Linked DNA regions of Homo sapiens. The protein of the gene in region 1 interacts with the protein of each later gene in a pairwise test. Each region holds a gene or a part of one and is shown in the gene's direction. Other genes may lie near its edges.

Region 1 (7,028 bases):
CCCTTTGAAAACTAGCATGATGGCCTGGTTGATAAAGAATGAGCTTCATTCCCCCTCAGTCTATGACTCTCCTCCCATAAGCAGTGGGGTTTTATTTTCCCTGGGGACCTGCTTTTTGGATATGTGATCCCTTAAGAAGAATGACCTCGTCAGATAGAGCCTGGACTTAGCAGTCCCTGGTGACTTTCTCCGATGTTAACATTTACTCGCCCTGTGACTATGTATGGAAAGCATTATTGCTTTCTCTTGTTGTAGATTTTCTAACCATGGCCAGAGGTAACTCTTCTTATGATTAAACAGCCCTTTAATAATCTGAAATATATGTGAACTTACCAAATTTTGTATGTAATTTCATAGAGTTTGTAAACCATCTGACTCCATTTATAATTCAGAGCTGTCTGGCCTTTAAGTTAGACAGTATTTCCCTAGGGAGCTGAATAACCTCTCCTAGAGATGTTATAAGTGCTGATGAGAATTAGTTTTTGAAATGCTCAAATAAAAAGCATAATTTTCCATTGTTATTAATGATGGATAATAGCAAAATATCTGCTAATAATAGTAGAGTTCTTACTTAAGCATCATGCTTTTCTAAGTATTTACATAACTGATCTGAAGCAGACCTTCTGATTTTTCTACTAATAGAAATTTCCCTTTCTGAATCAAGCAGAAATAGGTCTCCCTTACATCAAAGTTTGTGTTACCTTGAAATAGATTGGAAAGAATACATTTTTGTAAAAGTCATTTTTTTCTTGGATTTGTTTCCAGTTGGAGAAACCCTAAAGTCAGGGCACTTGCCAATTATCACAGGACTGTGAGAGTCCCTTTTTTGCTCAAGATTGTGGCTGGCTGCTTGTACATCTTTGACATTATCACACATCAAGCATATTAGAAAAAGGGGTGACTTGGGAGAGTGAGGGGATCAGCACTTTAGGCCTTGTCAACCCTCCTGCTTATCTGCTTGGCAGCTTCTGGCATCTCCTTTTCCCTAAGTCCTTGAACCTCTTTCCTAAGCGTAAACCTTTCTGTTTTTAGTCCTAAACCTCTCTTTTCACAGTATTCCTGTCAAATGAGTACTTAAACACATGTTTCATCTGTGATTTGTTTTGTTAATTGCTTTGTGGATTATTTGTGGCAGAATTTAAATCCTAATTCCTTTCTACAATTTAGCCAGTAAATTCAAGGAATGTACCTTTTTACGTTTGCAGCATGTGCCGAAGCGCCACCTCAGAAGATAAAAAGAAATGAGTCTCATATTTGGCATTCTTTTAGGTTTGTTACCTACCTTATTCATTAATGTAAATAATTGAATTACCTGTATTTTACCATTCGTAAACCAGGTTAATAGATATATATTAATAGCAGGCTTTCTGTGTGTGTCTTTTCCCTCCTTTCTTTCTATTTATTTATTTATTTATTTTTTGAGACCAAGTCTTGCCTTGTTGCCCAGGCTAGAATGCAGTGGTGCAATCTTAGCTCACTGCAAACTCTGCCTCCTGGGTTCAAGCGATCTCCTGCCTCAGCTGGGATTACAGGTGCCCGCCACCACGCCCAGCTAATTTTTGTATTTTAGTAGAGACGGGGTTTCATCATGTGGGCCAGGCTGGTCTTAAACTCCAGACCTCAAGTGATCCATCCGCCTCGGCCTCCCAAAGTGTTGGGATTACAGGCGTGAGCCACTGTGCCTTGCCCCTTGCTTTCTTTTGGGAATTCTCTTGTACCACAAGTTGAAAGTTATATTAGTTTGAGGCTTTCTATGTTTGGACTAGGATGACTGCCAGTGAGCCAGGGGAACCCATGAATCTGCTAGGCTGTTATATCACATTCACAACTACTTGCAAACCAGTTTTGAAGTGAAGGCTGCCAAAAATAATGACATATGGTCCCTGCTCTATAGAAAATGAGCATATGACCCTTAATAAAAAACAGGTAGTTTTTTTATATACAGAAAATTACCCTAAATGTGATTATGTTTCTTTATTTTTTGACCGTAGAACAGGAATCTTAATCTTTTTTGTGTTATGGACTCCTTTGGCAGTGTGGTGAAAGCTTTTAGAGTTCCTTTTTGGAATATGTTTTTATATGCAAAAATAAAATACATAGAACTATAAAGAAAACCAGTTATATTGAATTATATTGATATATAGTTATCAAAATTTAAGAAGTATGATATGGTATGAAAATATCCATGATTTCTACTGGTAACAAATCCATTTGTCTAATAAGTCTGCTATTACTGCTGTAGCTTATGTTCATCACTGAAGTGAAAATAAAGATACAGTCTTTTTCATCCAAATTCACAGACTTCCTGAATTCTATCATAGACCCTGCCTCAGAGATATGAGTTCCATAACCCACTCTAGGAAGATCACATTCTAAACACAAGAGTTTACTCACCAAATATTCTGGTAGAATAGTGGCAGAGTAAAATTGTTCAACTGTAAGAACTATTACATGTGTCCCTCATGGTTTTTTCTTTCCTGAAATATTCTACTACATGTCCAGGCCGAAGAAGTATAAGCTTTATTATGTGTGCCAGTGGCTAACCCAGGGTCTGGCACAGAGTAAGTGCCGCTCAGTGTTTGTTGAATAAGGGTTTCTCTGACGAAATTAGAGGGAAGAGATCCAGTTCAAAGCTAAGGTCTTAAATGTGACAGTTTATAGGGCTCATGACAAGTAACGTTGAACTTTAGTTTAGAACTAATCTGTCAGAGAAGCTCATGTTTTGAAATTCACTTTTACATTTATAAGTTCTCAGCCTGGTGTGATAGTTCATACCTATAATCCCAGCACTTTGGGAGGCTGAGGTGGGAGGATTGCTTGAGGCCAGGAGTTTGAGACCAACCTGGGCAGCAAAGTGAGACCCCCATCTCTACAAAAAATTAGCTGGGTGTAGTGGCATGTGCCTGTAGTCCTAGCTACTTGGGAGGGTGAGGCAGGAGGATCACTTAAGCCCAGCAGTTCGAGGCTGCAGTGAGCCATGATTGCACCACTGTACTCGAAATAATTCTATTTCTAACACTGTTTTTCACTTTAGATTGGGTAAATTTAGGTAGAATTTGCCACCAAATTATTAATAAAGCTGGTCCTGATTTCATCTAGGATGAGAGGTAGCAAACTTTTTCAGTAACGGGCCAGATTGTAAATAGTTTAGGGTTTGCAGGTCACACAGTATCTGTGACTACTCAGCTCTGCTGTTGTAGCACAAAAGCAGCCATGGACAATAAACACATCAGTGAGTGAACATGGCTGTGTTCTGATCGAATTTTAATTACAAAAACAGGTAGTGGGCCATCTTTGGCCAGCTAGCTGTAGTTTGCTGACCCCTGATCTAGATTTTCTGGTTCTTGAGTCCAGCTCTTTTCCCTACTTTCGCTTAGCCATATACTCCTTCAAGCTTCAAAGGCCTTTACATAGGGGGCAATGTCCTTACACTGTTATCTCCAGAAAGACCTGAGTGTACAGCAAGATGATAGGATTAATGAATGCCAGGAATATTAGATGCACTTTAACCCTTGAGTTTCCAGAGCTTGCCTCTTAGAGCACCAGCTCATTAAGCACCACCACGGTAGAAGCAGAGAAACATCCCAAATGTAAAGTCTGCTTGCGCACTCGGCTTTGGAACTGGGCATTGATATGCTGATAGAAAAATACTGGGCATTGGGTTTTAGTGGGGAAGATAATGTAGGCCTAGAGATGGGGAAGGCAGGAATAGAGTGCAAAGGAAAAATTATGCCTCATCTTTTTGCAAATAGTTCCTTGTAGTAATTGGTCAAGTTTGAGTTAGATTTTTGAAATGTGGAATAGCATATGTAATTGCAACTTGCTACTACAAGAGCTCACCCTTAGTCGCAGTTTTACTTTCCGTGGTTTCAGTTACCCACAGTCAGCCACGGTCAGAAAATAGGTGAGTATGATGTAGTAAGATATTTTGAGAGTGAGAGAGAACAGCCACATTCAGATAACATTTATTACAGTATATTGTTATAATTGTTTTATTATTAGTTATTCCTGTTAATCTCTTACTGTGCTTAATTTATAAATAAAACTTTATCATAGCTCTGTGTATATAGGGAGAAAACAAAGTAGAGTCAGCCCTTCGTGGCCATGGGCTCCACATCCGCAGATTCAGCCAAACTTGGATCGAAAATATTCAGAAAAAAAAAAAAAAAAAAACAATAAAAATACCAATACAACAATAAAAAACAGTACAAATAAAAAACCAATATTGTATAATAACTGGTTACATAGTATTTACATTGTATTAGGTGTTGTAAGTAATGTAGAGAAGATTGAAAGTATATAGGGGGTATAGATTATATGCAAATTCGACACCGTTTTATATATATAAGGGACTTTTGAGCATCTGTGGATTTTGGCATCTGCAGGAGATCCTGGAACCAGTGCCCTGCAGATTCTGAGGGACAACTGTCCATATAGGGTCCATACTCTCTAGGGGTTCAGGCATCTGCTGGCGTCTTGAAACATTTCCCCTGTGGATAAGAGAGGACTCTGCTATATTTAGATTGTTACATAGTTCAGGAAGCAAAGTCCAACTCCTCTTTCCCTTGGTAGGTCTGTTTGCAATAAGGAAGTTGAATAGAAAGGATTGGATAGGCCGGGTGCGGTGGCTCACGCCTGTAATCCCAGCACTTTGGGAGACTGAGGCGGGCAGATCACCTGAGGTCAGGAGTTCAAGACCAGCCTCAACATGGAGAAACCCCATCTCTACTAAAAATACAAAATTAGCCAGGCGTGGTGGTGCATGCCTGTAATCCCAGCTACTCGGGAGGCTGAGGCAGGAGAATTGCTTGAACCCGGGAGGTGGAGGTTGTGGTGAGCTGAGATCGTGCCATTGTACTCCAGCCTGGGCAACAGGAGTGAAACTCTGTCTCAAAAAAAAAAAAAAAAAAAAAAAAAGAAAGGACTGGATAGGAGTCCCTAAAACTACTTGTAGGAGCCTATCATCTTTCAGACTCAAGCATAGACATGCCAGCACCTAGATTCTGTCTCCTTCAGGACATTCACATTGGAAAAATATGACTAGCTGTATCCTTAGTGTCTCCTCAGTGCCACCCCTCCCTCCACAAACACATCTTCCACTTGTCTAGCAAAGCTGATGTGCCTCAGCAGGCATGTGTTGGAACGTGGAGGAACAAGGCAAGCAGTGTGTACTGGTAGGTGAGTCAGCAGAAACCAAACCAGGTCTTTGTGAGTCGGAGTAAAAATCACAGGCACAGATACTGCATTCTGTATTTCGAGGGCACTTTGGAGACACTAATGTACTTAGCAGGCAGGGTGTTGGGGGATGGGTTTTTATGTCCATATTTAGAGTCTGTGCTCAAATTTCAGTGATTAAGATAAGGTGACTTATCTAGGGAGTGAATAGGCAGCAGTTGGAAAGATCAGGTCTTAACAATTGCTGTATTCTGGCTGTCAGCCCTTTTTTTTTTTTTTTTTGATAGAGTTTCACTCTTGTCACCCAGGTTGGAGTGCAGTGGTATGATCATGGCTCACTGCAGCCTCCGTCTCTTGGGTTCAAATGATTCTCCTGCCTCAGTCTCCTGGGTAGCTGGGATTACAGGCACCTGCCACCACGCCCAGCTTATTTTTGTAGTTTTAGTAGAGACCGGGCTTCACCATGTTGGCCAGGCTGGTCTCGAACTCCTGACCTCAGGTGATCCTCCCGCCTTGGCCTCTCAAAGTGTTGGGATTACAAGTGTGAGCCACCACACCTGGCCTAGCTTTTTTTTTTTTTTTTTTTTTGAGATGAGGTCTTGCTCTGTCACCCAGGCGGGAGTACAGTGGAACGATCTTGGCTCACTGCAACCTCTGCATCCTGGGTTCAAGCGATTCTGCCACCACAGACTCCCAAGTAGCTGGGACTACAAGCATGTGCCACCACTCCTGGCTAATTATTTGTCTTTTTAGTAGAGATGGGGTTTCGCCATGTTGGCCAGGCTGGTCTTGAACTCCTGGGCTCAAGCAATCCATCCGCCTTGGTCTCCCAAAGTGCTGGGATTATAGGCATGAGCCACTGTACTGGGCTGTTATAGCCTTTTTGACAAAGAAAGTGTTCTGGAGGATGAACCACTAAACAAACAGGAAGTGTTGGCCCATCCTAGTAGGGCTCTTGAGGGAGGTTCTCTATTCTATCTCCAAATACTTTTCTTCCTGTCTCATTCCTAAGGGTCAGTCTGCAGGGCATTGAGTAATGCACTGCCCCATGTTCGCCTCCTACTGTATTGGCTCTGAGGAGGCGCGATCATTTCCCAGTCCCATTGCCCGCTGGACAAACAGGGATATTAAGGCAGCCTGTGTGTGTGCGTGTATTTTTTTTCCCCTTTGAATGTAGATATTTAAAGCCACCTCCTTTTCCAGAGCCATCACTGTACCTTACTTGAATGGTATTGGTTGATGACAGAGGCGCACTTATCATAAACTGAGAGTCCAAGAAATATTGTTCCTCATTGTTGGAGGTATTCCAAATGGTTACTGGGCAGTTATCGATGTTGTAATGGTGGTGTGGCTTTAGGTACACCTAAGTTTCAGTGTAACAAATTAAGAAGCCAACACGATGTTAGGATGTATTTACTGTCTTCAGTACGCCCTCATCCTCCCACACACCTTTTCTCTACACTTTCTCAGTAGCAAAGGTGATGTGTCCGGGCAAGCATCTATTGGAACATGAGGGAGACTGGGGGTACCTTTTTCCATGATTTTAAACATCAGTTATTATTCTGTATGCTTTGGTGCTGCGGTTATAAGTTAGTAGATGTGAGAGAACATTGGGATGGCATAAGAAGGCCGGGAAAAAATGAAAAAAACTTGTGAGACCTACAGAGTAAAAGTTTATTATTGTTATTATTATTTTGAGACAAAGTCTCGCTCTGTCGCCCAGGCTGGAGCGCAGTGGCGTGCGATTTAGGCTCACTGCAACCTCCACCTCCAGGGATCAAGTGATCCTCCTGCCTTAGCCTCCCAAGTAGCTGGGATTACAGGTGCATGCCACCACGCTCAGCTAATTTTTG
Region 2 (7,028 bases), on another chromosome or scaffold:
TGTCAGAGTGATTTTGGCAAGTTTGTTTAACAGTTACAAATTACATTACCTTGTCATCATCGATTTATGTCAGTGATAAACTGTGCTATTTTCATAATTTCTGATATTTTAAAAGTATTTAGCATAAACCCCTTCCTATACTTGCTGCAATGAAGATAAAGATGATTTCAGTGGGACATGCTTAGTATTAATTTTTTAGGTGTTTTTCTGATATGTGACTTTTATATGAATATGGGTAAGGTTTTTTCTTATGCAAATAAAATATTTTTACTTGGACTAATTAGTAAAAGAATAATGAAAATGTAAAATTTATTCATTTTAGAATGCACTTTGAAAATATTAATTTATTGTGGCAGCACTATGAAGTGCTGGTTATAAGACATGTAGAATGGTACTTCTACAATTTTTTTGTGATAGCCTTAAAAGTATTTAGAATATCAAATATAGTTTTGATTTGCAGATTTCCTTTGGAAAATGTATTGCTGATGTGTTTGAAATTAAACTTTCTTACATAAATCTTCATTGTTTTAGTTTCTTTTTGGAAGTACTGGATTTAGCTTATAAATTATATAAGAATATAAAGTAAGTATAGCATATTGTTAGAATTTTCTTCTTTTCTTTTTCAGGCTCAAACTGCTTTTTCTGCAAACCCTGCCAATCCAGCAATTTTGTCAGAAGCTTCTGCTCCTATCCCTCACGATGGAAGTAGGTTTATACTTTGAGTTCATTCTCTGTGAACAGAAATATTGTTATCTTCTTTTGCTCATATAAGGAATCCAAGATTTTTTTTTGGACAGGCTGCATAAAATTGGTAGTTAAGCTCAAATAGTTATGAATAAGAAAAAAAAGTTTACTTCAAAAAATAACCCTTTTTCTAATTAAGATAGTGAACTGTGGATATGGGGATGTATTTCATGGCTTAATGAAAATTAATTTTAGACTGACTTGTAAATCCCTAACGTGGCTGATTCATTTATGAATGAATTATATATATGAATTCACATATGAGAACTATATGAATTCACATTTAAGAACTATCATGCTGCTGCTGTTGAACTTTCTGAATTGTCTTCTGTCTTTCCTATGGGAGCTTCTGAAATTTCCAACCACCTCCTCTTTGGGAAGCCTCCTAAATCTTAAGGCCTTTATTCATTCTCTGTATCCTGTCTTTGGTCCCTTTTTCTTCAAGGTTCAGAGGGATTCAGGACAGAGCTCCTAAATACTATGACTTAAGATACAAAATAAGTGTTAAATAAGTTTTTGTGGCCTGTCATTTTGTCTTACAACAGTTTATAACATTGTGCCTCATAGAAAATTCATTTTAAGTCACAGATAATTTAAGTCTCATGTAAAAAAGAGCTTTTGGAAATAGTATATAACTACTAATAAGTGAAATAATGTTAATATTTAAAAATACCATTTCCAGGATTTCATTGGAATGTGGTTAAAATTATTAAAATGATAAGACACTAAATAAATTTACAAGCTTCCAAAAAAAATTGTTCATAAGAATCATTCCATATCCCTGTTTACAGAATGAGTTATAAAGTAGCTGACTTGACAAATAGATATTTTGGTCAGTTGTTCTGAATTGGAGAATCAGTGGCATTCTTACTAAATTCCTAATCAAGTAAGTTTATTTTAAGAAACAGGAAAGGCAAGATAGTTTATTTGGAAAAGTTATTTCTACTTTTGAGTGTTTAGGAATCTCTGGTTGTTTCAGTTCAGATGTCTTCATATTTTACGAATTTTAAACATTTTCTGTATTTTCCATTTCTCATTATTACAGAGATGGGGAGATGCCTTTCCAAATTGCTACTTTAAATTCATTCTAGATTTTATAACTTAAGTGTAATTTTGTTAATACGCAGAAGCCCATAATGAGAGAAGTTTTCATTTTGTGTATTCTGTAAGTGCTTTTTAATTTATTCATTTACTTTTTAGATCTCTATCCCAGACTGTATCCAGAGCTCTCTCAATACATGGGGCTGAGTTTAAATGAAGAAGAAATACGTGCAAATGTGGCCGTGGTTTCTGGTGCACCACTTCAGGGGGTATGTATAGTGTAATTAATTTTGATTTATATAAAATCATACTTTACATGTTAGTATAAGCTTTCCTCTTTGTGGCTAACTCACAGATATACTACTAGCATTGAACCTCACTTCTCAGAAATTTTAGACTTCCTTTTGGATATCATTTCTTATATAGTCTACTTCATTTTGTGCTACACTGTTTTGAGTTTATTAGGACTTAGATTCAGATACCTTTTACTAGTTCGTTCTCCTTTGTCTTCTGCATTTAGTCAGTTACTAAGTCCTATTGATTCTGTTTCTGTTTCTTGTATTCATTTTATCTGTTTTTTATCCATTCTAGTCCTACTATAACCATATTCAGGGTTTCTATACTTCTAGCCTTCATTATTATAGTACTCTCTTAAATTTCCTCTAGTAACTTATTTCAGACAGTACTAAGCCGCTGCTAAGTTAATCATTCTGAAATACACATATAGGTCTATCATATCTTTGTTGCTCATAATCTTTTTTTTTTTTTTTTTTTTTTTTGAGGCATAGTCTCACTTTGTCACCCAGGCTGGAGTGCAATGGCGTGATCTCGGCCCACTGCAACCTCCGCCTCTTGGGTTCAAGCAATTCTCCTGCCTCAGCCTCCCAAGTAGCTGAGACTACAAGCGCGCGCCACCATGCCTGGCTAATTTTTTGTATTTTTAGTAGAGACCGGGTTTCACCATGTTGGCCACGCTGGTCTCGAACACCTGACCTCAGGTGATCCACCTGCCTCGACCTCCCAGAGTGCTGGGATTACAGGCATGAGCCACTGTGCCTGGCCTTTGCTCTTAATCTTTTAACATTCTTTTTGAAATTCAAAGCTCCATGTAATTAGACTCCAGAGTCTAGCTTAATTATAATGGGTCTGATAACCTTTTATTAAGGTTATTGCTATGACCATAGCACTTTGTACCACTTATTATAATTGTAGTTAAATCTGTGTCTGTCTTGTTGCCATATCCCAATGCATATACAGTACCTGGCATTTATGTATTTACCAAATATTTATTGAAAACTTGCTTGTGTTAGTGGTGATGCAGTTGGGAAAACAAATAATAGTAGGTATTTTAAGAGGTTGAAAAATTGAAAAAAACATAAATGGACATAGATGTAATTGCAGATAGCTAGCTGCTTCTCCTAGGACTGGGATAACACAGGAGAGAGATTGGAGTTAGCAGAACCTAGAAGCTTGAGGAAGAGCCCCACGGAGCTGGGACTCAGACCTTGGATGAGGGGACACTACTAGTGCCTCTGAGGGGTTGTAATGAGGCTGGTTCTGGGAGTGTCAGTAAAAGTTGCAGACTGGAACCAACTGCTGCTGCCAGTGTAAAGGGCCAGGCTTACACAGTACTGACAGGAGCAGGAGGCACACAGGAAGGAATGAGGTGCTTGTCATTCCAGTCACTGACAAACGAAATTATAATTTGCACAGTTAGGCCCAGCATCACCAAGTAGAGTCTAGAAGGGTGGATTTGGAGCTGACAAACAGTAGTTTAATATCTGTTACCACCTACTCCTTTGACTACTCAGTATATCCACACACTTGTACAAACATTTGAATTTCATGTGACAACAACAACAACTTTATAGTTTCTCCTTGAAAGATGAATTTCTTCATAAAATCAAAGTTCAAACTTTATAAAGGGCTCCATAATAAATACCTTAGGCTTTCATGGTCACTTATGATCTTTATCACATATTCTTATTGTTATTTGTTTATTTACAATCTTTAAAAATATAAAAATCATTTTTAACTCAGGGGTGTACAAAATGAAGCCATGTACCCTTCAATATAAATGAAGTTGCTCTCACCCTTTCTCTAGAAAGGGATGATACCAGTTAATGTGGCCATCTCTGGGCAGTCATCATGGTATTGATTACTATATGATACTAATTACCCTTCTAAGTATTCACATTCCCAACAGAATATTTTTAATTTAAAGGCAAAAGTGTAAAGTTAACCACTACCAACAATTCATACATAAAGGTAAAAAGAGGTATAGAGGAACAGAAAGATTAATTGCTGTATTTACAGAAAATATACAAATACAAAGAAGAACAGAGTCATAGCTGCTCTGATTCTTATTTTAGTAACTGATCATGAGGCTGTAGTTAAAATTTAGAACTTCCTTTGTTCACTACATGGATGCTTAGATCCCTTTGCCCAAATACCTAGAAGGGTGATATAACCTTCATTTTTGTGTCTGCATCTCCAGGGTTCTTCAGTGCGCCGCCTTTTATTTTTCTTCTGTTCTATTTTAAATTAATTTGTTGCTGGAGATTTCTGTTATCTCTTCATATCTAGTGAATTTTTCATTTCACATATTTTATTCTTCTTCTCTTGATGTTCCATCTGGATCTTCCTCTCCCCAGCTTTATTGAGGTATAATTAACAAATATAAATTGTATATATTCAACTGTATATATCAATACAACTTGATGTATTGATAAACACACACAAACACACATTGTGAAATGATTACCACAGTCAGGGTTATTAACGTATCTGTCATCTCACATGGTTACATTTCTTTTGGTGTGTGGTGAGAACACTTAAGATGTACTCTTAGCAACTTTCAAGTATACCGTACAGTATTATTAATTATAGTTACTATGCTGTACATTAGATCTCCAGAACGTACTCATATGATAACTGAGAAAGTTTGTACACTTTGACCAACATTTTTCTCATTCTTTGCCCTGCCCAACCCCAGCCCCTGACAACCTTCCTTCTACTCTCTATTTCTGTGAGTTTGACTCTTTTCAGATTCCACATATAAGTGGGACCCAGACAGTACTTGTCTTTCTGTGTCTGGTTTATTTCACTTGGAATAATATTCTCTACATTTATTCATGTTGTCCAAATGGCAGGATTTCCTTTTTTTAGTGGCCTAATATTATTCCATTTTCTTTTTGGTTGGGGAAAGGTTCCACTTAAAATAAACCAGTTTTGATTAGGAAAACTGGAAAGAATTAGAAACTTGAAACATGGTATATGACACAGGTCCCTAATGTAGGTATTCTGGGGCATTCTGGTTTGTGCATATGATTTGTTAATCCATAGATGGTTACTAGAGGGGAAGAGACATAATAGTTGACTGTCTTATGTGTGCCAGTGCCCATACAACATGCACTTTTCATTTAATCCTGTCAGTAACAGTGAGGTAAGAAATTTGCCCCTTTTATGGAAATTCTGAAAGGATAAGTAGATTGTCAAAGATCGTGACATCATGAACCGTCTGGAAAATGTTTCAAAAGTATATGGCCTTTAAGTTCAAAGATAATAAATTTGAGATGAAGACAAGCCAGTATACCGGTGAAACAAATGCCAGTGAATTCAAAGGGCAACAGAGAGTCATTGAATCTATTAGAGATGATATGTGTGGGAATAAGTTAGTGAAGAATTAGTAGTAGAGCCAGTGCCATTTTCATAGACATCAAACTTTATCGGAAGGAAATTATTTGTGGATTGCTTTTTGGAAAGCCAAAACTGAGTAAGTTCCAGTTAATTATCATTGTTTTTTTCAAGGAGAGTGTTTCTAGATATTGACACATTGTATATGGTTTTGTCAGCAGTTGGTAGCAAGACCTTCCAGTATAAACTATATGGTGGCTCCTGTAACTGGTAATGATGTTGGAATTCGTAGAGCAGAAATTAAGCAAGGGATTCGTGAAGTCATTTTGTGTAAGGATCAAGATGGAAAAATTGGACTCAGGCTTAAATCAATAGATAATGTAAGTATTTTAAATACCTATTTGAATTTGTCTAAATCTCTTACATAATAAGTGATTAATGTTAAAATAATTTGAAATGGAAATGCTTTAATTATAATAGTGCATCTGTAGTTGAGAATATTTTAAATCTACTAACTTAAATGTTTTCAATTGGGGATGTTCTATTTTGCAGAGGCATAGTTGGGACTTCTGACCACATTACTTTGAAAGATGTTTCTTTTCTGAATATTCTAACTGGAATACATTTCACTGGCCTACATATATTATAGTTTGTATAATAGAATTGTGGCAATTAAATAGAGCAGATGTGAAGGTTAAGAAAAAACTTTCCAATGAGAGTCAATGTCAGTGTGCCTTTTTTTTTTTTTTTTTGAGACGGAGTCTCGTTCTGTCGCCAGGCTGCAGTGCAGTGGTGTGATCTTGACTCACTGCAACCTCTGCCTCCCGGATGTGTGTGCATTTTTAAACCAAATGATCAGTATTTAACTGGTGAGATGGTTTTTGCAGATTTGTTATTAACATCCTTCACATTTGAATTTAATATGTCATTTTCTGAGTAAAAAAAGATGGAATATTCTTTCTAATTAGGGCAGCCTTTACTTTATAATTACCTCTCACCTTAACATACTGAAGATATGAAACAGGGTTACTCTCTGAGGAACCATTTATAATTGTGAAGGACATGTTGAGTCTTTACCCCAATTTATAGTTTTAGCCATTACCTTATTGGATTCGGTTTCAGTCATACATCTCTAGCTTAGTGCATCCAGCCTTTCCACATAGAAAATTATAAGTGTGGTGCACTGCTGTAAATGGAGGAGGCTGATCTTGGCAGGAGGCCCCCGCCCTGCCTGCCCACCCAGGGGGCTGAGGCCATCGATGATGGCCTTGCTCACTTGTATGTCACTCAAAATACATCTGCGTGCTTAGTTGGGATGCTCTGACTTTGCTGCCCTTTCTCCAGAATCTTCAGGGAATAGAGTATACTGCTGCTCCTTCCGCCAGGATTGCTCTTGTGTTCTTTCCTCTGTCCTAAAGAGAAAAGATACTTTTCATAGGCCCCTTGGCCCCACTGTAGGTAATAGTTGCAGTGGATTTGTTCACTTGGCCAAAGGGCATTTGTTCATTTATGGGGTGCTACCTAGTTCTTGCTTATCATTCTACAATGTAACAGATGTGTGATAGAAATATGTGACCTAGCTTAGGATTGTAGAAGTAGATGCACTT
Region 3 (7,028 bases), on another chromosome or scaffold:
CTTGGTCTTGGGATGGGAGCCCAGAGAACGCAAGTTGCTCCAACTAGGTAGGGAAAATGCTGGGACAGATGAAACTTGAGTGGCTAACAAGAAGTACCAGGAGCCAAAGGCTCTCTGAACACTTGGGCCTCTTTTAAATGTCTGCCTTAAATAGCTTGTACCATTGTAAGTCTTGCATAATGGGTGAGAACATGAACTTTTAGAATCAAAGATGTCACTCTAGGTGTGGTTGTATTTGGAGTAAGGAAATAATTAAGGTTAAATGAGGTCATAAGTGTGGGGCCCTGATCCGATAGGACTAGTGTCCTTATCAGAAGAGTGAATGGAGAGCTTGCCCCTTACCCTTACATACTGAAGAAAGATTATGTGAGGACTAGCAAGAAGGTGGCCATGTACAAGACAGGAACAGAGCTGCCACCAGAGACCAAATTGGCCAAAACCTTGATCTTGGGCTTCTAGTCTCCAGAATGGTGACAAAGTAAATTTCTGTTGTTTAAGTCACCCAGTCTGTGGTATTTTAGTATGACAGCCCAAGCAGACAAATACACCATCTATATGCAGATACATCCAAATCTCTAGTCTGTTGTATGTCTGTACCTCTCCCCTGAACTTGGCTTTGTTCTCCACTTGCCTACTTATTGTCACCACTTGGATATATAATAGATGTCTCAAACTTCACTTCTCTGTAAACTGAACTCCTGATAGTCCCCTCAAGCCTACTCCATAGACATCTTTCTCTTCTCTTTTTTTTGGAGACAGGGTCTTGCTGTGTCGCCCAGGCTGGAGTGCAATGGCGTGATCATGGTTCACTGCAGCCTTGAACTCCTAGACTTAGGTGATCCTCCCACCTCCGCCTCCCAAGTAGGATGTGAGGGCAACCTGGCTGTGACATCTCTCACCCCGTTGATCACCAGGGTTGATCCGGCTGATCTGGCTGGCTAGGCCGGTGTCTCCTTCCTCCCTCACTGCTCCATGTATATCCCTCCCGAAGCTGCACACTCAAGTCGAAGAGAACGACCATCCCCAATAGAGGAGGACTAATCTTCGGTCAAGGGTATATAAGTAGCTGCGTTCCCCTGCTAGAACCTCCAAACAAGCTCTCAAGGTCCCAGGTAGCTAGGATTACAGGCACACGCCATCATGCTTCACTATCATTCTCTTCTCAATTAAAGGTAATACTGTTCTTTTAGCTGCTTAGGCCAAAAACTTTTGGAGTCATGCTTGACTTTTCTTTCTTTCACAGCCCACATCCCATCCATTGCAAATCACATTGGCTGTATGTTCCAAATACACCCAGAATTGAGTGACATCTTATCACTTTGCTACCACCATCAGGGCCAGGTCAGCATCACCTGTCACCTGGATTATTGCAGTAGCCTCCCATCTTATGTCTTCACTTGTACCCTTGCCTCTCCCTACATTCTGTTTTCAGCTTCAACTGCTAGAGAGATCCTTAAAAATATGTCAGATCATGTCACTCCTCTGCTCAAAGCCCTGCAGTGGTTGATGAGGTCTAGAGAATGTGTTGTTTCTAAATAATTTCTGTTAATCATGGTAATATAATTACTTCAAAGGAATTTCATTCTTATTGTGTGATTGCTCGCATTTCTAATTCCTAACTTAGTGCTGTGTCTGGGATGTGGAAGGTGGTCCGAAAATGTTGGTGGCGTCAAGGGATAGTGGGTATATATTAGGTAACCTCTCCAGATGAGAACAGATGAACAGTCATTTCCATGTGTTCAGGTGCTGTGCCTGTCAGAGATACTTTGGGAGATTTTATACTGAATACGTTCTTCTTGCCCATTAGTACTGTTCTTTTTCTCAAGAAATGGAGTTGTCGGCCAGGTGAGGTGGCTCATGCTCGTAATCCCAACACTTTGGGAGGTTAAGGTGGGCGGATTGCTTGAGCCCAGGAGTTCGAGACCAGTCTGGGCAATATAGTGAAACCTTATCTCTACAAAAAAATACAAAAGAGTAGCCAGGTCTGGTGGGGCATACCTGTAGTCCCAGCTACTTGGGGTAAGGGCTGAGGTGGGAGGATGGCTTGAGTCCGGGAGGTGGAGGTTGCAGTGACTGTGCCATTGTATTCCAGCCTGGGTGATAGAGCGAGACCCTGTCTCAAAATGAAGTGGTATCCAGTCCTTAATGACATTGGGACCATTTGTGAGTAACTAGTCCCTAACAAAAATACTTCAGAATTTTTTTTTTTTTTTGAGACAGAGTTTTACTCTTGTTGCCTAGGCTGGAGTGCAATGGCCCCATCTCAGCTCACTGCAACCTCCGCCTCCTGGGTTCATGTGATTCTCCTGCCTCAGCCTCCTAAGTAGCTGGTACAGGCACCCGCCACCATGCCTGGCTAATTTTTTGTATTTTTAGTAGAGACGGGGTTTCACCATGTTGGCCAGGCTGGTCTCGAACTCCTGACCTCAGGTGATTCACCCACCTGGCCTCCCAAAATGCTGGGATTACAGGCGTCAGCCACTGTGTCTGGCCCGGAATTGTTAAATATACACTGAAGTAAAAAGACAAAACACGGCTGGCCATGGTGGCTCACGCCTGTAATCCCAGCACTTTGGGAGGCCGAGGCAGGTGGATCACCTGACGTCAGGTGTTCAAGAGCAGCCTGACCAACATAGTGAAACCCCATCTCTACTAAAAATACAAAAATTAGCCGGGCATGGTGGCAGGCACCTGTAATCCCAGCTACGTGGGAGGCTGAGGCAGAATCGCTTGAACCCTGGAGGCGGAGATTTCAGCGAGCCGAAATCACACCACTGCACTCCGGCCTGGGCAACAGACCAGGACTCTGTCTCAAAAAAAAAAAAGAGAAAGACAAAACACAATGCAGGTCACTTAGCTATTTTCTCTAGAAAACAATTAGCTGTCATGATGCAGAAGATTGTTATAATCTATAAGGGGGAGGTTGTGGTTATTTTTACTCTAAAATCTTCCACTGCTTTTTTTTTTTTTTTTTGAGATGGAGTTTCACTCTGTCACCCAGGCTGGAGTGCAGTGGTGCAATCTTTGCTCACTGCAACCTCCACCTCCTGGGTTCAAGCGATTCTCCTGCCTCAGCCTCCCGAGTAGCTAGGATTATAGGTACACACCAAGAGGCCCAGCTAATTTTTGTGTGTGTATATATATATATGTATGTGTATATATATAATTTTTTTGTTTTTTTTAGTGGAGACGGAGTTTCACCATGTTGGCAAGGCTAGTCTCAAACTCCTGACTTCAAGTGATTCGCCCACCTCGGCCTCTCAAAGTGCTGGGATTACAGGCATGAGCCACCGTGTCCGGCCCCACTACATTCTTAAAGAAGCAATAAATTGACCTTGTTTAAATACACAATCTGAATTACTGGGGTCTTTTGAAACTAAACCTTTGTTCATTACTAAGATTTCTATTTTCCTTCCTCTTTTTCAGCACTTATTTCTATAGCAGTCTCCCAGCTGATGCCACTTAACTTCATTGAACAAAAAATGAGGTTTAGAAAATCACAATAATCATTGTGAAAGTATTTGATAGGAGATCTTTATTTGGGGTGAATTGGGTTATGATGTCAGTCCTGTGATTTCAGCGGAACTGTTTCTTTTTATCCATTGTCAGTGAGTGCTCATTAATACTTAAATGCAGCTTTCTTTTTCTTTCTTTTGAGACAGAGTCTCGCTCTGTCACCCAGGCTGGAGGGCAGTGACGCAATCTCGGCTCACTACAACCTCTGCCTCCCGGGTTCAAGTGATTCTCCTGCCTCAGCCTCCCAAGTAGGTGGGATTACAGGCACCTGCAACCATGCCCGGCTAATTTTTGTATTTTTAGTAGTGACAGGGTTTTGACATGTTGGTCAGGCTGATCTCGAACTCCTGACCTCAAGTGATCCGCCCGCCTTGGCCTCCCAAAGTGTTGAGATTATAGGCATGAACCACCACGCCTGGCATAATGCAGTTTTCTACTAAATGACTGATTTTGACATGCTTCCTGTTATTGGCCCTGCTGTTCAGCTGAAATAGCAGGATAGGAGATGGTCGTGTGATGGCCGATAGGTGGCAGTGCTGCTGGGACAGGCCCAGCCTGGTAGAGACGAGTATCTCAGACAGGAAAAACAGGACCCAGATGGCTCAGACTGTTGGGTTAGCATCTGGCCTTCGACAGGTCACCCTGGCCCGCCAGATCAGCCCCAGGCCTGACAAAAGCACTACAGGATAAAGAATAGGATCTCATTAAATGCAGTGGAAGTAACGTGAGAAGGATGGCTTTTCATATGCCATCCTAACCCTCCCCTCCCCCCGTTTTCTTTGCTTTGCTTTTCATACTTCTTAGCTTCTTGGATCTCTTGCTTTAAGAGGAACTAGGGTGTGGGCACAGTGGTTCACAGCTATAATCCCAGCACTTTGGGAGGCTGAGACGGGTGGATCAGTTGAGGTCAGGAGTTCAAGACTAGCCTGGCCAACATGGCGAAACCCCATCTCTACTAAAAATACCAAAATTATCCAGGCATAGTGGCACACACCTTTAATTCCAGCTACTGGGGAGGCTGAGGCAGAAGAATTGCTTTAATCCAGGAGGAGGAGGTTGCAGTGAGCCAAGATCACGCCACTGCACTCCAGCTTAAGCAACAAAGTGAGACTCTGTTTCAAAAAAAAAAAAAAAAGAGGAACTAGAGCTTAATATTCTCCTTGCAACATCACAGTCACAGTGCTGGTTGAGTAGTTACTTGCCTCGAAGGACTGGTAAGCCTTTGACAAGGATTGGTTACTTGGGAAGTTTTCTTGCTTACCTGTAGAAGTTAAGCTGCTCACCGACAGGAGCACAGACAAGTAGTAAAGTTCAGGGGTTGTTGTTTCCTACATTTGAGAGAGAAAAGGTGCTATGAGGAATACTTTGTCTTTTAATCAGAATGTGTTAAAAATGTTTTGCCACAAGGATTTAAATGAAGGTGCCAATTTAGCAAGAAATAGAAGTCTTGCTGTATACTGTGCCAAACCCAATCCAACAGCTTCAGTTTTTTTTTGTTGTTGTTGTTGTTGTTTGTTTGTTTTGAGGCAAGATGTTGCTTTGTCATCCAGGCCAAAGTGCAGTGGTGTGAGCATGGCTCACTGGAGCCTTGACTTCCTGGGTTCACGGGATCCTCCTGCCTCAGCCTCCCAAGTAGCTGGGACTACAGGCACGTGCCACCAGGTCCAGCTAATTTTTGTAATTTTTGTAGAGATGGGGTTTCTCCACATTGCCTATGCTGGTCTTCATCTCCTGGGCTCAATCGATCTGCCTGCCTCAGCCTTCCAAAGTACTGGGATTAGAGGCGTGAGCCACTGTGCCCGGCCTGTTTCACTGTTGATTAATATCTTAACTACTTTTCGAAGCTCTAGTAAAGTAGAATTCACCTACAAAAACAAAAATCTCTTGTAGAATTTTTAAACTTTCCCCAGTGAAATGTTTTAACTGTGACATGTGCCTAATCAGGTATTCCATCTCCACATATCTCTTCTTTTGGTGTCAGTAGAAAATAAATATTGAAGACATATTATTTACAGCCAAACTTTCAGATTAAGATAAGCCTTTAGAAATTCTTTGTTTATGGCTCACGCCTGTAATCCCAGCACTTTGGGAGGCCGAGGTGGGTGGATCACGAGGTCGGGAGATCCAGACCATCCTGGCTAACACAGTGAAACCCCATCTCTACTAAAAAAAAATACAAAAAATTAGCCGGGCATGGTGGCGGGCACCTGTAGTCCTAGCTACTCGGGAGGCTGAGGCGGGAGAATGGCGTGAACCTGGGAGGCGGAGCTTGCAGTAAGCACAGATTGCGCCACTGCACTCCAGCTGGGGTGACAGAGTGAGACTCTGTCTCAAAGAAAAAAAAAGAAATTCATTGTTTAAAAACATACACAGTCTGTTGCCAAAACTGTTAACACCATAGTGCAGACTCCTTAACTGAAGGATCCCACACCAAATGCAGAAGACATCCACTTCAGTGCCCGTGGCAATGGCTCCATCTGAACAAACTGCACAGTAAAACCTAAAAAGACAGAGGAACAGCATCAGTTTTTAGGTTTAATCATCTCAGAAAGAAACATATTCTTTGTTTTTTTGTTTTTTTTTCTTAAGACAGAGTCTCACTCTGTCACCCAGGCTGGAGTGCAGTGGCACAATCTCAGCTCACGGTGACCTCTGCCTCCTGGGTTCAAGTGATTCTCCTGCCTCAGCCTCCCTAGTAGGTGGGATTATAGGTGTGCACCACCACTTCTGGGTAATTTTTTGTATTTTTAGTAGAGACAGGGTTTCACCATGTTGGCCAGGCTGGTCTCGAACTCCTGACCTCAGGTGATCTGCCCACCTTGGCCTCCCAAAGTGCTGGGATTATAGGCGTGAGCCACCACGCTCGGCTAGAAACATATTTGAGCCACCACGCTCGGCTAGAAACAGATTCTTGAATGCAAACCTAAATGCAATTTGTTTCCTTCCCTTCCTGCTGTGGAACAGAAATGTCCAGTCTGGGCAAACTAATTTTTCCTTTGATATAGATTGTATGCATGTTTTTTTTTTTTGAGACGGAGTCTTGCTCTGTCGCCCAGGTGGAAGTGCAGTGACGTGATCTTGACTCACTGCAACCTCTGCCTCCTAGGTTCAAGCAATTCTCCGGCCTCAGCCTCCCGAGTAGCTGGAACTACAGGTGCCCGCCACCACGCCTGGCTAATTTTTTTTGTATTTTTAGTAGAGACGGGGTTTCACTGCATTATCCAGGATGGTCTCGATCTCCTGTCCTTGTGATCCACCCACCTCAGCCTCCCAAAATGGGATTACAGGTGTGAGCCACTGTGCGCGGGCTTTTTTTTTTTTTTTTTGAGACGGAGTCTTGCTCTGTTGCCAGGCTGGAGTACAGTGGCGCCATCTCAGCTCACTGCATCCTCTGCCTCCCAGGCTCAAGTGATTCTCCTGCTCCAGCCTCCTGAGTAGCTGGGATTACAGGCCTGCACCACCACACCCAGCTAATTTTGTTTTTTTTTTTGAGACGGAGTCTCACTCTGTTG
Region 4 (7,028 bases), on another chromosome or scaffold:
CAAAAGCATGGAAAAACCAGCATTATTGCTGGGAATGGAAATCATTCAACTTCTCTATCAACTGTTATCAAAAGTGAAAATGCAGGCCCGGGTGTGGTGGCTCATGCCTGTAATTCCAGCACTTTGGGAGGCTGAAGTGGGCAGATCACTTCAGGTCAGGAGTTCGAGACCAGTCTGGCCAATATGGTGAAACCCCGTCTCCACTAAAAATACAAAAATTAGCTGGGTGTGGTAGAGTGTGCCTGTAATCCCAGCTACTTGGGAGGCTGAGGCAGGAGAATCGCTCGAACCTGGGAGGCAGAGGTTGCAGTGAGCCAAGATTGCGCCACTGCACTCCAGCCTGGGCAACAGAGCGAGACTCCATCTCAAAAAAAAAAGTGAAAATGCACGTGCCTTCTTATCCAATAGTTCCATTTCCAGGAATGTGCACAAAGGTATATGTAAAAGAACATTCACTGCAGGCATTTTTGGGTGGGAGGGTGGCAAAAGGTTGGAAACCACCTGCCTATCCATCAATAGGAAATTAGTTAAATAAATTATAGTATATCTATACAATGAATTACTGTGTAACCAGTAAAAAGAATGAAGTAGAGCTATACTTATTAATATGTTAAAAATAAAGTGGAGGCCAGGCATGGTGGCTTCATGCCTATAATCCCAGCACTTTGAGAGGCTAAGGTGGGAGGATCACTTGAGCCCAGGAGTCTGAAAGCAGCCTGGGCAATGTAGGGAGACACAATCTCTACAGAAAATTAAAAAGTTAGCCAGGCGTGGCGGTATCCGCCTGTGGTCCCAACTACTCAGGGGGCTGAGATGGGAGGATCCCTGGAGCCTGGGAGGTCGAGGCTGCGGTGAGCTGTGATTGTGCCACTGCACTCCAATCTGGGCAACACAGCAAGACCCTGGCTCAAAAAAAAAAGTGGACAAGACTATATTCCACTTTTGGGATATATATTGAGCATCAGTGCCAGGCTTTGTTCTAGGCACTGGGCATAAAGCAGTGACCAAAGTAGACACTACTCCCAATCCTCTATGAGCTTTCATTTCAGAGGAGGAGTTTCACATATGCATGTATCTACACAGAATACATCTGGAAGAATATGCAGTCATCTGATGACATTAAGTGTTCCTGGGAAGGAGGCCTCAGGGTCAAGGATGAGAAGATTTCTTTTCACTCTAACATTTTGTACCATTTGAAAGTTTTATAAGGCATGTATTAATTTTTCCAAAATTAAAATTTTAAATTACAAAAATTGCATGTAGCAGAACAGAGAAGAAAATTTTTAAAGCAGGCAGGAGGATGGGCAGCCTGATAGGCTGTACCTTGCATCCTTAGTTAGGTTCTTGCTCCGTGTTGCTGCTTGAAGGCTATACAGAAAGAATCTTTGCCTCCTTACCCTATTTAGAGCCACTGCTGACTCCACCGGTTTGAAATAGTAAAGATTAATTTTCCACAATGAGATATTGGCATTGCTCCCAAATATTTCATGGAAGTGGCATGCCTTCTTTGAGGCAGTTGTCTTAGTCATTAAGAGTTCTTTCCAGCAAAATCGGGGCATCAGTGCCCCACACTGGATTGGCGGGTGGTGGGGGGGTGTCAGTGCTTTGAGTCAGACCCAGTCAGGCTTAAAACTCCTAAAGAGACAATTTCCAGATAACTTCAGCTTTATTTTTAATGCTTTTTGCCAATAATTTGATCCCATCAGAACAGCTCCCATGGTACCATAATTCATATATCCTGTTTTTATTTGTATAGGAACCTAGGAGAAAGAGAAGGAAAATTGAAAATAAATTAAGTCAAATGCAATACTTGTGCTAAAAATGTTGTCAAAAGTTGAGGCCACTTCTAGGCAAAATGTTGGAGGCAGAGTTTGCCTTTCAGTCTCTTTCTCATTTTCAAAGTTTTCCTTTCTGTCTTGCGTTGTGTCTTCAGATGCCTCCACATTCTGCCTACCACTAGAGCACCCACTCTCCTATCTGCCTAGAGCACACACATCTGTCATCATCAGGTGCTCATCCAGGGTTCACCGCCATCAGGCAAAGGACCACTTAGCTTATCTTTTTCATAAACTAATTTATGCTTAGATATGAATGACTACCCAGGCTGCCTAAGCTCTTAATAAATCAGAAACTTGCTGCAGAGATATAGAAGTTTGATGTGAAACAAGTTCATATTCAATTGGAGGTATCTCTAACAAACATTAAAGTGATTAATCTCACTAGTAATACCACCAGCACCCTCATTTTACAGAGTAAGAAACTGAGGCCCAAAAAAAGTGTTAATTGGACCATAGTTAATACTGACCTTGCCTGCGTTACATTAGGCATTGTAATCCAATACCTTGGATTACATTATTTTAAAAGTTGCAGTGTAGACCTTAAGTAACTGTTTAACAAACAACCTCTTGATTAAATAAGCATTTAAAAGTAAGTTGTTATTAAGACCTAACATTAGCTATAACTTTATTTTAGGTAGTACTTGAAGAAGTCTTTCTTCTGCAAAATATCCTTGTCTCATGTCACAGAACAACCCTGCATGTCTTGAAATGCATGTGACTTGTTAGTGCTTAAATAACAATACATGCGGTATGTATATATTCTTTACCTTAATTCCTACTTCTTTGATCTGCTTCTCTAAATATAAGTAATTCCGTAGCAAATGCATATTTTCCTCATTTTTATACTTTAGTTTTTTTTAAAAAAAAAAAAAAAACAAGAAAAAGAGGTAATTGGCAATATATCCTTTTTTTTTTTTTTTTTTTTGAGATGGAGTCTTGCTCTGTCACCCAGATTGGAGCGCAGTGGTGTGATTGATCTTGGCTCACTGCAGCCTCTGCCTCCCGGGTTCAAGCTATTCTCCTGCCTCAGCCTCCGAGGAGCTGGGATTACAGGCACACGCCACCATGCCTGGCTAATTTTTGTATTTTTAGTAGAGATGGGGTTTCGCCATGTTGGCCAGGCTGGTCTCGAACTCCTGGCCAGCCAGGCTGATCTCGCCCTCCTGGCCAGGCGCAGTGGTATAAGCCAAATAAGAATTGCTTGAACCTGGGAGGCAGAGGTTACAGTGAGCCGAGATCGCGCCATTGCACTCTAGCCTGGGTGACAGAGGAAGATTCTTGTCTAAAAAAAAAAAGTGGTATAAGCCACTGCGCCCGGCCAATATTTTCTATGTTTATAGCAAAATTGTTCAAAAACTGCATATGTACCTACAATATTTTTTCTTAAGAAATTCAAGTTTTGGGCTGGGCACAGTGGCGTATAGCTGTAATCCTAGCACTTTGGGAGGCCGAGGTGGGTGGCTCACCTGAGGCTAGGAGTTCAAGACCAGCCTGGCCAACATAGTGAAACCCCGTATCTACTAAAAATACAAAAAATAGCTGGGTGTGGTGGCTTGTGCCTGTAATCCCAGCTACTTGGGAGGCTGAAACACAAGAATCACTTGAACTCGGGAGGTGGAGGTTGCAGTGAGCCAAGATCGCGACACTGCACTACAGCCTGGGCAACAGAACAGATTCTGTCTCAAAAAAAAAAAAAAACGAAAAGAAAAGAAATTTGAATTTGTGTTTTGAGTTTGCCTTGAATTATTGTCAGGAGACAATAATTCTGTCATAAGGAGATAACTGGAAAAAATAGGAATGGGTTTTATAAAACAATCATTGACTCAATCTCTAGCTCTTCTACTCTAAAGTCAGGTAATATGTGGTGCATTAGGTTAGGACTTTTATGTTAGTCATATGATGCATGGGTAGATCTTTCTATGTTTTCTCTTTGAAAACTACTAATCTGCTACTCCTTTTGGCTATAACTCACAAACTCTTTTCTCTTCAGACTATATAAAGACTTTAGCTAGAATGCTTCACTTTTTTATTAAAGAAATTGCTGTTTCCTTCCAAGGACAAACATTTTAAAAATAAATGATATGGGTCATTCATTCGGCAAATATTGGACTGCCTGTAGTAGATTAGGCACTGTGTAGGACACTGGCAATATACTGATGACACAAGCTACCCGCTGCCCCTTAGCAAGTCATTTTTGCAAGTCACTTTTATGACATATTTATCTGAAATAGCCCATCACTTATTAAAATCACCTGTGACATCATGGCCTGGCACGGTGACTCACGCCTGTAATCCCAGCACTTTGGGAGGCCAAGGTGGGTGGATCCTTTGAGGTCAGGAGTTTGAGACCAGCCTGGCCAACATGGTGAAACCCCATCTCTATTAATAAAGTATAAAAAATTAGCCAGGATTGGTGGCAGGCACCTGTAATCCCAGCTGCTCGGGAGGCTGAGGCAGGAGAATTGCTTGAACCTGGGAGGCAGAGGTTACAGTGAGCCGAGATCGTGCCATTGCACTCCAGCCTGGGTGACAGAGGAAGATTCTTGTCTAAAAAAAAAAAAAAAATCTGTGACATCAGCTAATAGGTTAACTTAATTAAAGAGAGCAATTCTGGCCAGGCACAGTGGCTCACATCTGTAATCCTAGCACTTAGGGAGGCCAAGGCAAGCGGATCACCTGAGGTCAGGAGTTCAAGACTAGCCTGGCCAACATAGTGAAACCCCATCTCTACTAATAATGCAATGCCTGGTGTGCACCTGTAATCCCAGGTACTCAGGAGGCTGAGGTAGGAGAATGGCTTGAACCCAAGAGGCAGAGGCTGCAGTAAGCGGAGATTGCACCACTGCACTCCAGCCTGGGAAACAGAGTGAGACGCCGTCTCAAAAAAAATAAATAAAAATAAAAATAGGTATTCAACTTATTGCTTAAAAATGTATACAATTTCTTTGTAAAATTGTTACTGAATTTTTATTTTAATTCTTTTTTTTTTTAATAGAGACAGGGTCTCACTATGTTGCCCAGTTTGGTCTCAAACTCCTGGGCTCAAGTGATCCTCCTGTCTCGGTCTCCCAGAGTGCTAGAATTACACGTGTGAGCCACTGTGCCCAGCCTGTTACTGGATTTTTCTATCATTGCACTTATTTTTTAATGTCTATAAAAAATTTGAAAGACAAATATATTAATACTTATGTTTTATTTATGCTTCCAAATAACTACACAAAATCACTTTCTAAAAGATGACTCATCTATGCTTTGCAATTTTTCTGCCCATGCATTTCTTCTCTGTGCCACCTCTCTTCTGTGTTGATGATAGGAGAGTACAGTTGTCTCTCAGTACCTGTTAGAGATTGGTTCCAAGACCTTCTCATGGATTCCAAAATCCACAGAAGCTCAAGCCCCTGATACAAAATGGCATCACATTTGCACATAACCTCTGGACATCTTCCGGTGTACTTTAAATTATCTCTAGATTACTTATAATATCTAATACAATGTAAATGTTATGTAAAAGATTGTTATATTGTATTGGTTAGGGAATAATGACAAGACAAAAGTCTGTACATGTTTATTACAGACACAACTATCCTTTTTTTGTATGAATATTTTCAAGCCGAGACTGGTTGAATCCACAGATGCAGAACCCACAGATATAGAGGGTCATATCCATGCATTAATAAAAAGTTTATGATTTTTACTTAAATTAATCAAGAAATAGTGGTCCCATAGGTCCTTTGAATTGACTTGGTTTGGAAACATATGGAAAAAATATTCCTAAAAAAGTATTTATAAAAAAAAGAGAAAAAAAAACAAAAAAGAAAACTATTGAAAAGCCGAAAAAAGTTATAAAAGATGAGAAAAAATTAAAAATTGTGAGTATTCAGATAGCAATTCTTATCAACATGAAATAATATAATATGGTTATGGCAGTTCATGAATAGATATTTGAACTATATCTTTACATAAGTTAAACTGTTAAAATTTATACCCTTAGCAGAAGGCAAGATTCCACCGGATGCTACATTGATTTTTGAGATTGAACTTTATGCTGTGACCAAAGGACCACGGAGCATTGAGACATTTAAACAAATAGACATGGACAATGACAGGCAGCTCTCTAAAGCCGAGGTAATTCAAACCAATTTCATGTGTATAGTCTAATTTTTTTATCACAGTTTAAATACATCTGTGTTACAACTATTACTTTTTAGGTCTAGCTAGCATGGGCTCTGATCACTGCTTTTATAGAGCTGGTCACTAAAAAATAATCTAAGCGCTTAGAAAAAGCTCTAAGCTTTTTCAGTATAAACCTTGTGAGTCATCCTGTTCAATTGCCTTTCTCCCTGCAAGAGAGTCATTAAAATCCCGAATTATTTGTCTCTACAGTGCTCTTCCAGTTTCTAGATTACACTAGCATATCTCTTTTTCAGACAGCACTGTAAGAATTTGCAACAGGGCAAATAATTCACGCCTCATAGGATGATGAAAAGAGCTAGCAAGGGTCTGAATTGAGTGGGCTAGAAAGTTGGTAAACAGGAGCCAGAAGTTCAGCCAGCTAGCGTCTGTATCTCAGCCTTGTAATAAAGATCTTGTAATAATAATGATAATTGGGCTGGGCATGTGGCTCATGCCTATAATCTCAACACTTTGAGAGGCCGAGGTGGGAGGATTGCTTGAGCCCAGGAGTTCAAGACCAGCCTGGGCAACACAGGGAGACCCCCGTCTCTACAAAAGATTTAATAAATTAGCCAGGCATGGTGGTGCATACCTGTGGTCCCAGCTACTCAGGAGGCTGAGAGGTAGGAGGATCGCTTGAGCCCAGGAGGTTGGGGCTGCAGTGAGCTGTGATCATGCCACTGCACTCCAGCCTGGAAGATAGACTGAGACCTTGCCTCCAAAAAAAAAAAAAAGATAATAATAGATAACATTTATTTTATACTTTTAGTACCAGGTACTATTTATAAGCACATAAGTATGTGAACTTATGTAATCTTCATGATAGTTTATGGGGCAGACACTATTGTCATCATCTTCGCTTTTAGATGGGGAAAATAATAATCAGGTTAATCAGCCAAAAATCACACAGTAGTAAGGGGCAAAACCTGGGCAATCTGGCTTCATGACTGTTCTTACATTTCAATTTTTTAAATTTTTCTTAGAGACAGGGTCTTTCTCTGTTGCCCATGCCAGGGT

Evidence for each region.
Region 2: the proteins of PCYT1A (region 1) and SDCBP interact in binary tests that used the Homo sapiens proteins (3 or more experiments, as listed by UniProt).
Region 3: the proteins of PCYT1A (region 1) and NMNAT1 interact in binary tests that used the Homo sapiens proteins (3 or more experiments, as listed by UniProt).
Region 4: the proteins of PCYT1A (region 1) and FKBP7 interact in binary tests that used the Homo sapiens proteins (3 or more experiments, as listed by UniProt).

What each region holds. Positions count from the first base shown.
Region 1 is NC_000003.12:196,277,716-196,284,743, reverse strand, and holds part of PCYT1A (choline-phosphate cytidylyltransferase A), read left to right. Parts: intron 1-1,205; exon of another isoform or gene 1,206-1,269; intron 1,270-7,028. UniProt on the Homo sapiens protein: Catalyzes the key rate-limiting step in the CDP-choline pathway for phosphatidylcholine biosynthesis.
Region 2 is NC_000008.11:58,570,261-58,577,288, forward strand, and holds part of SDCBP (syntenin-1), read left to right. Parts: intron 1-626; coding exon 627-705; intron 706-1,944; coding exon 1,945-2,054; intron 2,055-5,639; coding exon 5,640-5,801; intron 5,802-7,028. UniProt on the Homo sapiens protein: Multifunctional adapter protein involved in diverse array of functions including trafficking of transmembrane proteins, neuro and immunomodulation, exosome biogenesis, and tumorigenesis.
Region 3 is NC_000001.11:9,946,454-9,953,481, forward strand, and holds part of NMNAT1 (nicotinamide/nicotinic acid mononucleotide adenylyltransferase 1), read left to right. Parts: exon of another isoform or gene 1-1,054; intron 1,055-4,118; exon of another isoform or gene 4,119-4,195; intron 4,196-4,777; exon of another isoform or gene 4,778-4,844; intron 4,845-5,885; exon of another isoform or gene 5,886-6,016; intron 6,017-7,028.
Region 4 is NC_000002.12:178,468,587-178,475,614, reverse strand, and holds part of FKBP7 (peptidyl-prolyl cis-trans isomerase FKBP7 isoform a precursor), read left to right. Parts: intron 1-1,647; exon of another isoform or gene 1,648-1,760; intron 1,761-2,472; exon of another isoform or gene 2,473-2,586; intron 2,587-4,090; exon of another isoform or gene 4,091-4,178; intron 4,179-5,829; coding exon 5,830-5,963; intron 5,964-7,028. UniProt on the Homo sapiens protein: PPIases accelerate the folding of proteins during protein synthesis.